Linked DNA regions of Homo sapiens. The protein of the gene in region 3 interacts with the protein of the main gene of each other region in a pairwise test. Each region holds a gene or a part of one and is shown on either strand. Other genes may lie near its edges.

The links.
Region 1: the proteins of IGF1R (region 3) and PTPRR interact in a two-hybrid assay, tested with the Homo sapiens proteins (one study listed by BioGRID and IntAct).
Region 2: the proteins of IGF1R (region 3) and LEF1 interact in binary tests that used the Homo sapiens proteins (3 or more experiments, as listed by UniProt).

The regions. Positions count from the first base shown.
Region 1 is NC_000012.12:70,641,019-70,644,769, forward strand, and holds part of PTPRR (receptor-type tyrosine-protein phosphatase R isoform 1 precursor), read right to left. Parts: intron 1-3,751. UniProt on the Homo sapiens protein: Sequesters mitogen-activated protein kinases (MAPKs) such as MAPK1, MAPK3 and MAPK14 in the cytoplasm in an inactive form.
Region 2 is NC_000004.12:108,078,184-108,081,934, reverse strand, and holds part of LEF1 (lymphoid enhancer-binding factor 1), read left to right. Parts: intron 1-265; coding exon 266-349; intron 350-2,320; coding exon 2,321-2,443; intron 2,444-3,552; coding exon 3,553-3,715; intron 3,716-3,751. UniProt on the Homo sapiens protein: Transcription factor that binds DNA in a sequence-specific manner. Participates in the Wnt signaling pathway. Activates transcription of target genes in the presence of CTNNB1 and EP300.
Region 3 is NC_000015.10:98,910,388-98,914,138, reverse strand, and holds part of IGF1R (insulin-like growth factor 1 receptor isoform 1 precursor), read right to left. Parts: intron 2,825-3,751; coding exon 2,698-2,824; intron 1,096-2,697; coding exon 857-1,095; intron 1-856. UniProt on the Homo sapiens protein: Receptor tyrosine kinase which mediates actions of insulin-like growth factor 1 (IGF1). Binds IGF1 with high affinity and IGF2 and insulin (INS) with a lower affinity. The activated IGF1R is involved in cell growth and survival control.

The DNA.
Region 1 (3,751 bases), on a different chromosome or scaffold from region 3:
GTCAGAAGTGAACAACAGAAATGGCCAGCTGAGAATGTGGTAATGGTTTATCTTCTTAGCTGTGTGATGACATCTGGGCTCATCTAAAATCATAGCAGGTGTTCCGAAGATGCTGGCTTGAACTGTGAAGCTTGGGAGACACCACCACAGTAAATATTAGGGTAGCTCCAGGGAGCTGAGAGGTGCCTCCCTTCCTCTGGCATTTGCACAGCTCAGGGCACCATTACTCCCTCTTGAGCTGCAGACAGTATGTGGAAGCTTCTATGTGCTCCACCTCTTAGGCTCTGGTCTGTCAGCTTCCTCTCACCATTTACCTCACTTTGAGGCAAGATTTTCCCCTTCTTGTATGTTCTGGTCAGCACTGGTATTTACATGTCCAACTGGTGAATGAATGGAGACACAGTTTAGAATTTAATAACTGTTTCACCCTAAGTGGGTCAGTGGTGTAATTTAATGGTTGGAGTATATTTACTATGACATTCTGTTCACTAAATCAAGGTTGTTTTAGCCAGTGAAAGTGGGGAAGATGGAGAAGCATACTCATTAATTGTGGGCTGGCAAAATTCTTGCAGGTCTGAAGGCTTCAGGAAAGTATATGAAAAGTTCTCTTACCTCCCACTTAATTTGGAAAATAAAAATGAAAAAAACTGGCATCAGAGGAATTCTTAGAGATCATCCATTCTAGTCACTGACAATATAGCTTTTTTAGAAATCTTGCAATTTTAGAGGCAGCCTTTTCCAAGGTTGGCAGGAAAACTTTTAAGACATCAACATGAATCTGTCCTTTCTAACTTTCACCGCATTGGTCCAACTGAAATAACCCAAAAGACGTCTTAAGGCTCCCCTGTAGTCACACAACAGCTCTCCAAAGGCTGGAAAACAGCCATCAAAGTCCTATAATCTTTTCTTCTTTAGACTAAACATCCTGTGGTCACTCAATATTTCTGTACAGCCTGGTTTTTCTGTCACTCACCACTCTAGTCTCCCTCTTCTACAGGCTATTTTATCAAATATGACCTTCTTAGAGAGTTGTGTCTCCTTCTGATGAGATCTATGAAGCAGGCTTATTTTCTCTTCCAGCTGCACGTTAGAGACCAATAGATCTGTGTTTGCAGGTGCATCAGGTGGTGAGGTCCCCCAGTGCCTACATGGTGCCTGGTTCTCGGTAGTATTTTAAGATACTAACTGACGGTGTAGATTAAATAAAAAGTCAACAAGACTTTTTTTGAATGTGGACATTATAGCTTTCTCCCATCCTGTAATTATGCTACTGGATTTTTGAAACTAAATGCAAGGCTTTCTATTTATTCTTGTTAATTTCAACTTGTTAGTTTCAGCACAATGCTCTTGTTTACTGGATCACTATCTATCGTCAATATATTAGTCTTCCATTTCTCACTCCCAGCGTTGTGTCTCCCAGGTATTTAACAAGGATCCCTTACATCTTTTTATCTAAGGCATTATTAAAAAATAGAAAAAGAGACAAAGTAGGGTCTTTAATATGAGTAAGTTGATATCATGATATATACTATCTAATCCCATTCTATAATTATTTCCAACTAGGTTGTAGGTCCTTTAAAGACCTACAAGCATAATGGCATGGTCTTCTTCTACTTGTAACAATAAAAAGCACTTACGAGTCCTAGGTAAATACTTGTCAAATGAATTACCCAGGTCATGCTATTTTCATGTCATGTGAAAACAGATAAACTCTAGGCTAAAAGAAAGCAAAAGGTATTCCAGGATGCATTCACTGGAGGCTGGTTCAAATTCAGGAACTCATCATAATCATCTCTGAAAATATTAAATAAATGTCCTATTGCATATATTGATATATAGAATAGTCTATTGGCTGGATGCAGTGGCTCATGCCTATAACCCCAGCACTTTGGGAGTGCTGGATGGATCACTCGAGCCCAAAGTGGGAGGATCACTTGAGCCCAGGAGCTCGAGACCAGCCTGGGTAACATAGTTAGACCCTGTCTACAATTTAAAAGAAAAATTAGCTGGACATGGTGGTATATGCCTGTGGTCCCAACTACACAGGAGGTTGAGGCCAGAGGATAGCATTTGCTCTATAACAGGTAATCCATTCTTAGAAAGGTCAACAGAGTCTTCTTTCTTCTTATTTTTGATATGGGGTCTTGCTTTGTTGCCCAGGCTGGAGTGTAGTCATGCAATCACAGCTCACTGCAGCCTTGGCCTCCCAGGCTCAGGTGATTCTCCCACCTCAGCCTCCCAAGTAGCTGGGATGACAGGTGCATGCCACCATACTGAGCTAATTTTTTCTGTGTGTGTGTGTTTTTTGTGTTTGTTTTGTTTGTTTTGTTTTTTAAGAGAGAGAGAGGGTTTTGCCATGTTGCCCAAGCTGGTCTTGAACTCCTAGGCTCAGGCAATCCATCCACCTCAGCCTCCCAAAGTGCTGGGATTACAGGCATGAGCCACCATGCCTGGCAAATGCAGTTTTTTAGATAGGCTGGTCATAGCAAAAAAAGAAACACCTAAGAAGCTAGTACAGTGTCTGTATACAAAATATATTTATGGAATAAATGTATAAAGCTTGGTTAACTATGGAACTCTCAAGAGAGCTCTATAGTTATTCATCCTCAGGAGAGCTCTGACTTGACTCCAGGAAGCTCTTAGGTCAGATAGGTTTCATGGATTTGCTAAAATCTGGATCTATATTACTGATATAAAGTTCCCAATACAAAGTGGTTCTGGGAGGTGAGAAACAAGGGTACTCTTTTTCTTACTTTTTTTTTCTTTTTCTTTTTGGGGCAGGGTCTCACTGTGTCATCCTGGCTGGATCGTGGCTCACTGCAGCCTCAACCTCCCAGGTCAACTGATCTCCTTAGCCTCCCAAGTAGCTGGGACTACAGGTGTGCACCAATATGCATGCACCTTAAATTGCAAACAGAAGTGAAACTTACCTCAGGTTCATATCTGATAAATGCTTATGTTAGAACTAAAACATAACCCCAGCCAATCATAAGCATCCAACTCACATATTGTTATGTCAGTAAGGACTTTCCAATACAGTACCTGAAAAAAGGCAATTATGTAATTGCAAACCAACCAAATAAATTGTTTGTTTCTGTACTTTCCCAATAAATACTTGCCTCTGGCGTTTTGTCATTGGAACACTAAACCTCTTTTGGTCTGGTGTTTCCCAATGTATGACTGGCTTCTTACTAAATAAACTCTTTAAAATTTTATTGTGCGTCAGATATTTCTTTTCCAGTACACGTTTGTTTTCCCAGGAGGTATAATACATTAAGTGAAAATACCTACTGCTAAGCAGGAGTTAGTTTACCAAAAAAGAGTAAGGTCAAATAAAAATGTCAAGAGAACCCCAGCTAGCTGAGAGAATGGTGCCAAGTTCATTACCAGGGGGGACCAGAGTATGTTAAGAGGGAAAAAGACAGCATACACTGTTGTCAAGACAAATTCTGTCTCCACCACTTACTAGATATTTTACCCAACTACACAATCTCTGCAGTGCTCAGTTTTTTCATCTGCAAATGATGCGACAATAAAAACAATAGTTCCTACTTTATAGCATTGTTGTGAGAAATAAATGGGACTATCACTTAACATGTTTAGCACATAGCCAAGCACATATCAATACCATAAATGTCAACTATTATTATTGTTATTGTTATTGTTACTCTTTGGTACCATCTGGTCAAATAGGACTGGTTAGGAGGCTCTGGAGTGAGGCCCCCAAAGACCCTGGAGAACCAAGAGCAAA
Region 2 (3,751 bases), on a different chromosome or scaffold from region 3:
AGAGGGGATGGGATAAAAGAGATGTAATTCATGGATGGTTTGTTTCAAAGTTGAGGGTGGGAGATTTCTTTCAAGGCAAATGACACTTTGATTGGGTGGAGGGTAAGGAAGGGGAACGGTTACGTTTCTGAAACAATCCCGGGGTCTGTAATACTTCCACAAGATTCTGTTTGAATATCTCCCTCTTCTCCCCTCATCCAACTCTTACTACTGGTTGGTAACTGGTGTTTTGTCATTGATGGGTTCCTTTCTTCTGTGACCTCAGGCAAGGTCAGCCTGTATATCCCATCACGGGTGGATTCAGGCAACCCTACCCATCCTCACTGTCAGTCGACACTTCCATGTCCAGGTAGGTGGAGGTGGAAACTGGGGCGCTCGAGGACAAGTTGCTCTTCTCGTGCTTGCATCCTGTGCGCCTCTGCTTGCCTTTTGGTTGGCTAGGAGGGTGCATACCTCAGCCATGTGTCTGTCTGTGCAGTGTGCCTGGCTCCCACACTAGGTGTCAGAGAGAGTCCCGGGTAGGAGCTCTGCGCTGTGCCCCGGCCGGACCAGCCACACCATCGGGCGATGGACTCAGCCTCCTTGGAAAGCGTTGCCTCCAAACAAATTCATGGCCGCCTGACTGTGGGATGGGAACTGTCCGGAAAGCGGACATTACAAGAAGAGTTTGTTTGATTCAAAATATGCCGGGGGTGGGGTAAGGGAGGAGGATAAAACTGGTTTGGTCTCAGCTCTATAATTTGCTTCCTTTGTGGAAAGTTGTATCAGTTTGATGCGGCAGTGTTTGAAAATGCCCAGATAGTCTAGAGCCTTCCTGGATGGAGGCTGTCAGAAGAGACAGAACAGTGCGGACAGGCTGGCAGGCCATACAGGGTGTGCGTCCTAGTGTGTGAATCAGGCCCTGTGTGGACATGGTCATGCCAGCGGAGCTCGGGAGGCCTGCCGCGCCGCACCGAGAAGCTGCTGTGTGTGATGCTTTTGCTTCTGGAGAGGATGGCACTGTGCCCTGTGCTTGATGTACACACACATTTGGGGTGCATCATCTGTGTGTTCGATGTGGCTTTGTCAAGGGAGCTAGCATTATTGTGCCGGAAGTCAAACTGGTGGGTTATTAACTGGTTGTGAATATGTCTTTTTTATATGGGTATAGTATTCAAAGTTTCTGTGGTGAATTACAGCTTTAAAAAAACTTTTTTTTTCAGTGAGTTGTAAATGTAGCTGATTGTGGGAGGAGGTGGAATTAATATCCTTCCCCTTAAAACATATTTTTATACTTTTTAACATTGTAAGAACTATCTGATGATAGAACTCTCACAGGCAAATAACTATCATCATGTATTTTTGCAAGTAATACATTTAGCAAAGCATCATTATTTGGTCAAATATTTGTATTTTTACCATGCTTCCTTCATATTTTAAAATTTGTTTTTGAAAAATATATATCCTAGCAGAGTTCCTTTCAAGAAAAGGAAATTAATTGTGTAGGCTGTGATGAAAGACCTGAGAATGTTGTTCTTGCTGAATTAAATGTTTACTTTAAAAAGTTTGAAAAGCAAAAATTTCTAAAACATATCCAAATTTATCTAGAGAGCTTATTGAAAATACTGTCTTTATTTTATTTTTCTTGCCTGGCAGTTTCCCTCCTTTGTGTTGGCTGGTGGTGGATATTTTAAGATTTTTTTTAATGCTGTTCAAGCGTACTTGGGAAAAAGCCTTTGGCAAGTGTAGTTTTTAACCTTGATGCAGAACTTTATCCTTCCTTTAAATTCTTCTCCTTATTTCTGTTACCAGTTTTCCATAAGATGAGATCTCTGAAACATTAGTGTATTTCTGCACAGAAAATCATTTTGGATGATGTTAATGGAAACCTTATTAAATGGGAGACTGATTCCTATCCGTTTTCTCAGTTGTTCCCTCCTAATATGGATGAGGAAGCCAATAATATGAGAAAATTCCCATTGTGATGGTTTGCTTAGGAATATAGGCAGAGATTTTAAAACATGATGTGTTTTGCTTTCATTTAAAAATCATTTAAAAAGTCAAGTCTTAAATAAAGTGTTATATTTCCAATAATTACTTTTCGTGAAATTCCTATTTCAAAATTGCTTTGCAAGAAAAATGATTCACTTTTTTTTTTCCACCCGAATATAGAAAGAAAAAAATAATTATCGGCCCACTCTAATTTATAGTTAATGCTTCTGTGCGTAAAGATGTGTTTTTACTCTTAGCCAGTAGCAGTTAGTGGATTGCTTTGAAATTCCATCTAGCTTTTGCTGCAACAGCCAGTAGTACATTGTTTTCTTCTCTTTCCTCCTTTCAGGTTTTCCCATCATATGATTCCCGGTCCTCCTGGTCCCCACACAACTGGCATCCCTCATCCAGCTATTGTAACACCTCAGGTCAAACAGGAACATCCCCACACTGACAGTGACCTAATGCACGTGTAAGTATCCACCCGGGCTCTGCTGTGATTGCCTTAGGATACTGAGGATTTCTACACTGTTGCTCCTTTGCAACAGTGATCCTTCACCCCTTTGTGTTGCTGTGAAACTCAATGCACCTCTGCCTTGAAAACTCTGTCCCTGAGGACATTAAGCAGCTTCATTCCTACTGTGCTGATTTTGATTCTGAGGTTGCAAAGGAGCACGGACCCTAAAAGATCATGGGAACCTCACCAAAATGGAAGAATCTTCAGAACATAGGCATTCGAGACTCTTCAGCTGTTTAGCCATTTACCACTGAATTTTCATTTGGTTCAGATTATTGGGGAGAACCTGTTCCTACCTGAGTGAAGTAGATTGGAGGGTTTAATGCACTTTCTTCTGGAAGTGCAGTTACCCTGGCTCCAAGCTTCAACAGCACAGAATTCAAGGGAAAGGAACAAATAAAGCCCAGGATTCCCTGTTGGGCCAGGGTTGTCTCAGACTGTGAGTGCAGGCCTAAATTAATTTACTCTGAAGAGATGAGTAATTAGTTTCTTAATCTAGGTTTTGTGGATGGGAGGGTGGGGGTGAGAGGCAGCATGTGATGGTCCATAAAGCCCTTGCGAATGTATGCAAAGGCAACATGCATTTGTTTGGGGGAAAAGGTCTAAAGATTTATTAGCTTCTCAAAGTGCTCCTTAACCCCCTGCAAAAGTTAAGAACCTCTATTCTGAAAGAGGAATGATCACCTGTGCTGTGTGTTCAGCTTCTTCTGAGGGGACCAGAGAAGTCCTCAGCCTCAGAGCCCATCTGGAGCATCTTCACAATGCCAAGTCCATTTCTACTTGGTGTTCATAGTTCTATAATGACAGGTCCACTTTCTCAAACCAAAGGGTTTTATTCTCAGTCACTGAGTAGATAGGAAGCCCTATTGGATGGGTTGTTTGCCTCTCAGTGTTTTGTCAAATGAGTCAATAACTGCTCTTCCAAGTTGGTGGTGGTCTGGGGTGAGAGGGTTGTCGCCATCCTGAGTGTAGCCATGTGAGCAGGTGCTCTGCTTTTCTCCTCCCCCATCCCTTCCTCATTCCTTCAACCCCTTCCCCTAACCACCACCACCACCACCTTTTAGGAAGCCTCAGCATGAACAGAGAAAGGAGCAGGAGCCAAAAAGACCTCACATTAAGAAGCCTCTGAATGCTTTTATGTTATACATGAAAGAAATGAGAGCGAATGTCGTTGCTGAGTGTACTCTAAAAGAAAGTGCAGCTATCAACCAGATTCTTGGCAGAAGGGTAAGTAGCCGAGTCATGTGTAAATGTTCATGGTAG
Region 3 (3,751 bases):
GAGTGCTCCCGCATCCCTGCCACCATGCAAGGACACAATGAAAAGACAGCCATCTATGAGCCAGGGAGTGGGCCCTCACCAGACACCAAATCTGCCAGCGCCTTGATCTTGCACTTTGTGGCTTCTGGAACTGTGAGAAATACATTTCTATTGCTTATAAGCCACCCAGGCTACACTGTTTTTTTGTGATAGAAGCTCCAATACACTAAAACAATCAGTGTCTTTAAAACTGAAGTGGATTTTCCTACTTCTAAACTAGTTTTTATATACTGGAAACTATTAACGTTTGCTTTTACTGTTTCCAGATCTGGAGTTGAGAAATGAGATGGTTTAGAACCTAAAGATAAAGGAAGGAGGAACCTCATCATCAGTGAATACTCTGAATATCCACAACATACTACATCTGCAGGCTTTCAACTTTTGTTGACCTCTTTGGAACTCTATAAGCTCCAGAATGAAGATGGAAAACCAGTGAGCTACATGAATTAAGTGGAACACAGATCAGCATGGTTTCAGTTCCTGGAGGATTGAACATCAAAACAAACAAGAAACAAGGGCAGCTGAAGACGGCTGTTTCCAGGCTGGGCCTTCCAATGAAACCAGCCCAGCACCCTGGAGGACCTGGGCTCACAGGCACAAAGCAGGAGATGATGGAAGATAGTACCGAGGCCAGAAAATGGCACAGAAGAGCCTAATGTGTTAGCAGTGGGGAAATGAATATGACACAGTATTACCTATTGACAAGAAAGACAACAGGCATAGCTCACTGCTAACCCTACAATGACACCTGGTACAAGCAAGGCCAGTGAGCTTGCGAAGAAGTGTGGATGCTGGGGGCTTGTCTAGGCATGGATACCTGAAGCATTGGTGCGAATGTACAAGATCTCACTCTTGGCCCCACGGATATGGTCGTTCTCCACCATGGTGAGGGTCACAGCCTTGACGTAAACGGCGTACTGAGTCCAGGGCTTCAGCCCATGTAGTAAGATGCCGGGCTCCACGTCCTTGTTGGGCGGGAGGTCCACGTCCACCATGTTCCAGCTGTTGGAGCCGCAGGCATCCTGCCCATCATACTCTGTGACATTCTTAAAGGGTCTGAAAGACAATTAAGTTCAGAGAAAGTTCGGGGCTCTGACATCAAAACCCTCAAAAATCTTCCCCAGAGGCCCAGCATGTCACACTTTCTATAATGGGAGGTCTAAATAAACAAATAATCAATTAGACTTTTATAGAAGAAGAAATGAAGTGACTGGACTCTGGGCTTCCCCAGTCGGGCATTACAGAATTGAATGGTCTGCCTCAGGAAGAGCCACTTCAACAGTTACTGGGATTCAATAGTTACTATTCCTTAAGAACATATGCAAAAACTATTTTTCTCTCTTCTGATTGCAGCATTTTTTCATCAAGAAAAAAACAAGCATAGTCAGTTAATGCAAATATCAGATATTGAAAGAAGGTAACTGTTGGAGAAAAATGACTTTCCTACAGACAAACAGAAGTAGCTTCTAAAATTCAGATTGCTCATAAACAATTCTGATGCTTAAGCATCTTATAATATTCAAATATTTAGTTTCCAGATTGCCTTAGAAACCAGCATCAAGTCCTCAGTGAAATTACCAGCTGACATTGCCAAAGCACTGGTGTGACTATCAGAGAATATAGTACTTCGCACAGATGCATGGTTGGGTAGGTATTTTATATTTATCAGCTAAAAGGGCTGGACAGCTGCTGGCCGCTGGCTTCTGAAACAAACATGAACAAAACACCGTCTGCTGTCATGGGATGGGAGATCATGAGGGGCTCCCCTGTGTACAAACTCTGAAAGCCTAGTAATCCTAAGTACCCAATTTCTCATTCATAGGACCCCAGCTCTGGCAGGAGGAAAGAGTACAAGATGCTGTCATAAGGTGCCTCTGGTTGCTGCTCTTTGGAAGCCACACATCTGGGAGAGAGAACTATGGGATTAACATGGGACCTGGGTAAGGGGGATGGCTAAGTAGACCGGGGTAGCCACCTGGATATAGAAGGCAAAGGAAGGAAGAGGGAGATCAAAGAGGGCTGCAGTCGGGAGGAATAAGCCTCGGCTGCTTAGATGGGGGAATGTCATGTGATCACACAGGAAAAGCTCCCAACAGAGTCTAGGAGAAGTCACAAAAGGCTCAAGACATGAAGGTTGTTCTCTCTCCACTTTTCTTCGCTTGTTTGGAAGGCTCATGACCTAGAGCAGAGGGCCACAGCTTGGGAGAGGCACACAGAGAGAGAGACAGGAATAAGATGATACAAAAGAGCCACGTGCCTGCAGGGTGTTCCTGGAGTAGGCCTAGTAGGTAAGGAGGCTGAAACGATATTTCAGTGAAGTCCCCCATCATCGTTCATGAGTCTGGACTGACCTAATTCTGGAAAAAGCAAGCTTTCCCCATTTTGGGTTTATTTTATTCAAACACCTCTAATCACTCACTAAAGAATGACAGGCCTCGAGCTAACACTTTCCCAATCATGGCTGTCACTGGCTGTGACTGACATCACAGGGACAGCCCGAGAGGGTGCATGAGGATGAAGTAGGGATGTTTGGCGTGGCTCTCCCTGGGGACTCTGCTGACCCCCTGTATTCAGCCAGCCCATTCAAGGATCGAAAGACTGGCCTCTCCCATTCGTAGCCCTGTCAACAGAATGGCATCACCCAAAGCAGAAACTCACGCTTCCTTGTAGTAAACGGTGAAGCTGATGAGATCCCTGTAGTCAGGGGGCCGGTACCGGTGCCAGGTTATGATGATGCGATTCTTCGACGTGGTGGTGGAGGTGAAATGCAGGACGTCACTTTCACCTGGGGCAAAGAGTACATCCGTGAGTGACAGAGATTCATGTGTCTCTGAAAAGCACCTGTCTTGCTTGGCACTGCTTCCCCCTTCCCCAAAGCTGGCTGTATATGCTAAGTTCCCTTCTGGGCTTCCTCAGTGGCTTTCTCGTTTTCCACTAAGAAATCATACATTTCACTATGCAGAGCTCCAAGGGCTCCATCCTTTGTTTTAGGTCAATCAGTTACGCTGGCTACTTGCCCAGGGACTTGGACATGAACCTGGGTTTCCTAACCTGAAAACAAGGGGCGACTTCAGTGAACGAGGTGAACTTATCTTTCTTCTCCATCCCTAAGATCCTGGCTATGAAAGGGGGCCTGGTAGGGTGAAGGTGAGCCTTTAGGCTGCCCTGAAACTTCTTAAGAGAGACGATGACACTTGTTCTGCAGTTGTGGATATCTGCCTGTTCGTGTACAACCACCAAAGACAGGTAAGAGACTACAGGTGTGCCACAGAAAGGAACTTTTCTTGGTCTAAACTTGGTATCAAACTGGAAGGACACAGGAACTCCTGTGAGGCCTCCAGCTAGGGCTGACAAACAACGGGAGGCTGGATTAAGCACTGACAAGAAGATCTCACTTGGCCAAGCCTAACGTGCTCTATGGGAAGTAGCCTGGCTGGCGGGTATGGCAGGGAAGCTGTGCCAAGTGTCTCTCTTATTCCTTGGACCAAATTCAAACTACGATAAGGACCAGGGAAAGACTGATGACTGCCCACCCTCATGGAGACCCAGAGCTCTCTGACGAATTGTCCTTTCGCCCTCTTATCTGCCTGAATCCCACTACACACTCAAGAGGTGAAGCAGAGGGACTGAAGACAGTAAAAGAGCTAAGAAGTCTTTAGGACAAAATGTGCGCAACTGAGATTGGGAAATGTCACAGTTCCTGCTGAAGTGT